Linked DNA regions of Homo sapiens: region 1 is linked to region 2. The links come from fine-mapping of genetic effects on plasma protein levels. Region 2 holds a variant in brackets. A gene starts in the other region. All regions are shown on their forward strands.

Region 1 (2,915 bases), not on the chromosome of region 2:
GCTGGGATTATTACAAGAGCTTCCTAGCCATTCTCTCTGCCTTTTTCCTACTTCAGTCACTCCTCAATCATGCCTGTGCTTAAAACCTCCAAGGACTTTTCTTCTCACTCATAGCAATGTCAAAAGCATTGCAATGACCTACAGGTCCTATACCATCTGCCATCTAATACCCTTCTGACCTCATTTGTTGCTATTCCCCTTGCTCAGGCCTCCAACCAAAGTGGCCTCTTCTCTGTTCCTGGAACAAGTCACAAGGCTTTTATTTCTGGGGCACTATTTTTCTTATTTCTTCTTCCTGGAATGGTCTTCCCATAGACAGTCATATGGCTGCAGGCTTATCTGAGTCTGTTCATGCTGCTACTACAGAATACCACAGACTGGGTAATTTATAAAAAACAGAAATTTATTTCACACAGTTCTGGAGGCTGGGAATTCCGCAATGAAGAGGCCAGCATGTTCATTGCCTGACGAGGGCTGTCTATCTCTTCTTCCAATTTGGCACCTTGCTACTGCATCTCCAGAGGGGACAAATGCTGTGTCTTCACACTGCAGACAAGCAGAAGGGCAAAAAGGGACTAGCTAGTTTCTTCTTGCCCTTTTATAAGGTCATTAATCCCATTCATACTGGGGTCTGCCTTCATGACTTAATCACCTTCTAAAGAGCCCATCTCTCAATACTGTCACCTTGGGTTTAAGTTCTAACATGGGAATTTTGGAGGGACACGTACATTGAAACCATAACAAGGTCTTTACTCAAAAGTTGCCTTCTCATTGAGGCCTTCCCAGGACTTCCTATCTAAAATTTCAACCCAGTGTCCCCACCCCCAATGCTTGTTACTCCCCAACAATACTTTTTCTCCTTAGACTTAGTATATGTCACTATCTAATCTATTTAACTCATTTATCTTGTTTATTATCTGTCTCCCTTATTGGATTCTAAGCTCCAGGAAGACAGGGATTTTTTTCTGTCTTGTTTTGTTCACTGCAGTTTCGCCAATGCCTGTCACACAGTAGGCACCTAAAACATTTTTGTTAAATGTTGCTGAATTTCACTTAGATAAAATTGACATCATAAACTTTCTACATAAAAGGATAGCAAAAATGTTTTCCATTTCTAAACTTGTTAGGTATTCAGTCAGTCCTAATTAGCAGTTCTGAAATCAATTTTGATTATCTGACAACATGATGTCCAAACTGAGGTATTTATATTTTCTGTTTATCCCACTTTCTGGAACATTTGATAGTAGCTTTCTACCACAAACACATTTTTAGATTAAAATTACTTCACCCCCTATGGTTATCTGTGGGCGCTTGTAACAAATTGTTTGCTAGCGCTGAGTGAGCCAGTGCTGATTGGCCATTGGGAACTCTAACAAACTTTAAATTTCAGCAAAATGCCCAGAGACTTCTAATCCTGCAACAAGAAGCCAGGTATTCTGAAGGTGAAAGATACCAGGTAATTTGGCTTTCATGTTCTTGACAGCAAATAGCTTTATATCATAGTTGTTTACGTTTTTAAGATGCTTGCCACCCAAGTATGGTTTTATTACTTTTGAAAATCTTCTCTACTGAGCAAAACTGTGTAATATTTGGTGCTTTGTTTTATAAAATAGGAAATGCGTTACCATGCTCTAGAAATCATCAACTAAAATTGATGATTTGATAGCAACTTTCTCTTTTTTTTTGTTATTAGCATTATCAAGATCCACAGTAACTCAGACTTCAGTTTTCTTCTATCCCTTCACTTAACAAACTGCAATCAGGAAAATCTGATCTTATTCATACTTTGAAACCTCATCTGTGTTGATATTTCTACTGATGAGCATTAACTCATTTCATAAGTTACTTACGTTGTCCTGATCTATAAAATGCTTGGAAGGGTAAACTATAGTTAGAATTTAGATCCTTCTAATTGCATTAATTTAGAAAAACATAGCCTAGGATTTTAGAATATATTTAATAGTTACAATCATTTCTCCAAATACCAGCTTTTCCTTGAGGTGTTTAAAGATTGCAAGAATATTTAGATTATTTTTTCCCATAAAAACAAGTTTTTCTTCAAGAAATCTCAGAGTGGCATAAATTTATTGTTTTCACAATATAATAATAAGATCAATAGTCCAAAGACATGTTGACTTTTTTCCAATCTAATGGCTACTTAAGTGAGCTCACTAGTTCCTGTTGGTATATTTACCAAAATATAAACAAATACCTTTATTTGTAACTAAATGTTAGTATTTTGAACATCATTTTGTTGAGCCCAATATAAAATATGATTTGCCTTTAAGTCAACTGTACATGGATTTTTCTGTAATAAGATAAAAGAATAGAAAGTTATTTAAGGTGGCAGAGAGTCTTGATGAAGAAAACTGGGTCTAGAGCCACATTGCCTGGATACTAATCCCAGTTCTGCCCCTTAATATTTGTGAATTCTAAAGCAAGTTATTTGATCTTTTTGTGTCTATTTCCTAATCTATACAACAGGCATAGTAACGCCGCCTAACTTGTAGGGTTGTTGTGAGGCTCAAATAATTGAATGCATGCAAAATTCTTAGACCCAGTGCTTGGCTCATTTTAGTATTCAATAAATGTTAGCCATTAATGTCAGTGTTGCAAAAATTAGTTCACTCTCCAGCCCATGGATGGCTACTAATTCAGACACATTGCTAATGAACATGAGACACAGATTAGGGCACCAGCCCGGAGGCAGATAAGCTTTCCTCACAGTGCAATCTGCTACCCTGACAAACTTAGAGTGTGTTATGAGCTGCTACATCAACTTAATGTCATTTTGAATTACACAAATAATTAAACAATCTCTTTCTAAAGACAAGAGGAAGAAGAGCTGATGATAGAGCAAATAAATGTGTCTATAAAATATATTTCTATCAACTGACTTTACTGTTTTAATGATA
Region 2 (2,915 bases):
AAAAGGCATTAGGGGCAATAGACTGTAGCACAAGCCATGGTCATTTTTGGAAAAGGAAAAAAAAATTGCAGCTTCATGCCTTTCTTCTGCTTTTGTGGTATTTAAAAAAAATTCTAGCGAACTTCCCATTTTCATGTTACTTTTTTCTTTTTGAAGGAAACATGAAGTGTGGGGAGAAATAGCAAAACGGAGAGATGATGGGGTTAAAAAGCCCTGCTAATAGAGTAGTGTCTGGACTGTTGTCATTGTCGTGGTGGAGCCCTGAGTGGGGAGGTGTGAAGTGAGGGGTAGAATTCAGCCATTAAAAAGGCTTCACTGTCATTTGTGAAGGATCATGCTTGACTGCCCCCACCTCCCCAGGCTGTTTTTCCTCACTCTGTAATTAAAAAAGAGACACACATACTGTCTGTTCTCCTCTTTAAAGTCACAGACGGCCCCACCCACACCAGCACCCCCTCCAGCGAGTTGAGTTGTGGGGGCACAGCCTGTCTTTCATTTTAAGGGAGAACTTGTCTTCCTTCCCTCTCCTTTGGAAGGTTCACCTGAGGGTGGAGTGCTAATCTCAGAAAGGCAAGTTTTGTGTTTTGTGGCTGGGGTCTTTTTCCTTTAGCACCTGACAGGGTGACCCATAGGGGCCAAGGGAGAAGTGACTGTGATTTCACAGCCCTTGGTGGCTCCAGACACGGGCACGTGTTTGGACCAGAAGTGGTTTTGCCCTCGCTGACAGGGAGGTCAGATGCGAGAAGTCTCCGGAGGGCTGGTGGTTGGCATTCAGCAACAGAAAATCCCATCCAGCTCCAGGAAAAAAGGGCCCTGGGCGATGGAAACCCTGTCACCTGGTTCTGAACCAAAGCCCAAGCTGCTAACTGAGGTTAGTTTTTCACACTCAGACCTTCCAACCTGCCATCTTTCACTCCCTGCTTCCCCATCTCTACACGTGTCTTGATGTTATTTCCCTTTCTCCAAACACAGGGCACTCTTTTTTTTTTTTTTTTTTAACCAGTATTTTTTTTTTGTTTCCAGCAGAACCAGCTGACCCCTGCCTGCAGAACTCCGGGTCCCTCTTGGAGCTCTCTGATGGCAGCTGTAGGGCCATCCCCAGCGGCACTGTTTCCCCCTTTGTTTACCCGTTTCTAAGGGCAAGTGCACCACGAAGGCTCTCCGAGCCTGGAACTCAGCCTGGGGCTGTTTTGGTTACATTGAAGTTTTTGCTTCAGTTCTGCCAGATTTAA[G/A]TGGTGACTTCACTAGCACTGAGCTAAAAAGGAGAAGGGGGAGGAGGGCGAGACCAGGAGAAAGAGAGCAAGTGAGCGAGAGCCCAGCCGGAGGGAGAGCCAGAGCTAGGCGCAAAAGAAGGGCCAGCACATTACATCATCGCTTGGCCTGGAATCAAATGGGAAGGATATGACTCACTCAAGCTAGTTAAGCTTTGGCTCAAATTCTACACACACTCATTCCAGAGCTCTCATGTTCTGCACCTCAGGAGGGAATTCAGCCTCAGTGATGTCCATGAGGTTTGTTTTTAATTTTATTTTCTTTTCTCCTGATTTTATAGATTTTTTTTGCCCCTACTGCCTTCTGTTTTTGAGCCTTCGTCCTCCTCCTCCTCCTCTTCATTTTCTCCCCCTTCTCCCTTTCTGCCCGTCTTTGTTTCTCCTCTTCTTCCTTCTCCTCTTTCCCCAGCCCCTCCGCTCCTCTTCTTGCCCGAAGAGGCATTTCTTTTCACTTCGATCAGAGTTTTTGTTCTAGCACAGAGACCTGAATGAGTTGAACAGAGGCCGGGTTGGAGGAAAAAAGAAAAAAAAAAAAAAGCAGAGCAAACCAAAGCAACCAGAGCAAAAGGGCCACAAATAAAGAGCGAAGCGAGAAAGAGCAAACTCGGGCGAAGTTTCTTTGCTGCGGTGTCGCTCCTAATCGGAGGAGACAGGGAGAGAGTTAAAATGCAGGAACCAATCGCTTGAATGGTGATGTAATGCAAGAACCGAAGGGTAGTTAAGTAATGTGAGAGCGAGGGGGTCAGGGTTGCAAAGCATTTACCTGCTCTCAAGGGGTTTTCAGTTTATTATCAATTGCAGTGACTGTAACCGGCTTCAGACTGCAATCTCTAATTATTCACAGACGCTCCTTTTTTATCTTTTATTATTAAAAGTAAAACTATATTATGGTATTTTAAAATAACACGATATTATCACAGCTGTGTATTATTTTCTGCCAGGATTCTCTCTCTCTGTTTTTTAAATGGCTTAAAACTGTTGTCTTTTCATAAAAGGTGGAAGTGATGGTGTGGTGGTTGGTTGGGGGGTTGGGGGGGCGATTTTTGAGTGTAACTGGTGAATTGTAAATGACTGGAAAACTGTGTGTTGTATGAAAAGTGAATGATTGTGCTGTTCCATTTATTATTAAGAATATACTGCAGCTTTTAAAAGTAATAGATGATGATCCTCAAAAGTAGTTATAGCCTTTCCCCTATTATTTCAGTGAAGGTTAACAGCAATTGTGCATTTGCTTGAGCATGTTGACATTCTGTTGTTCCACGTGCTAATTAATCCGGTGCTATCTTTAAGACTTTTATGTTCTTGAATTAATTTTTTAGATGATATGCTTCAGTAGTGAGGGGGCGATGATGAAGACTTCTTGATTGAGTTGTCTTAGAAACAGTTAATATTTCAGAGTAAGAAATTAACAGGAAATACAGGGAGAGGGGGCAAAGGATTGTGTTCTTAATGTTTTAAGGATCTCGTGTACTCAGAGAGAGAGACTTTGATGTTTTGAAAATTATTACCACATTTCTGTTTCATAGAATAGATTTCGTATTGTGATATGCTGCCTGAGTTGGGTGCTTTCTGACACCATCCGGCATTACTAGATAGTAATAAACTGAAACCCACTAAAACAAGAGGGCAAACACTTTCTCATTC

Alleles and levels. Positions count from the first base shown, and alleles are read on the strand shown. Strength reflects both the effect of a copy and how common the allele is.
In carriers of allele A in region 2, the plasma level of the protein whose gene starts at base 1,411 in region 1 tends to be higher than with G alone (weak association).

What was found. PIP is the posterior inclusion probability: the model's chance that the variant is causal. The UK Biobank Pharma Proteomics Project read protein levels with antibody pairs (Olink). The fine-mapping took linkage between variants from a reference panel, not from the people measured, so its PIPs are less certain.
Region 1: MEPE starts here. The variant in region 2 is fine-mapped to the plasma level of the MEPE protein (UK Biobank, PIP above 0.99).

What each region holds. Positions count from the first base shown.
Region 1 is chr4:87,831,559-87,834,473 of GRCh38, forward strand. MEPE (matrix extracellular phosphoglycoprotein) reads left to right here and starts at 1,411. Exons shown (of 4, transcript NM_020203.6): 1 at 1,411-1,456.
Region 2 is chr7:28,684,687-28,687,601 of GRCh38, forward strand. All of the region lies in intron 5 of CREB5 (cAMP responsive element binding protein 5), which reads left to right. Among named protein-coding and RNA genes, the nearest start is that of TRIL, 270 kb to the right of the region's middle. RefSeq lists enhancers at 467-516, 733-1,241 and a silencer at 625-794. The variant G/A (reference allele first, on the strand shown) is at 1,233.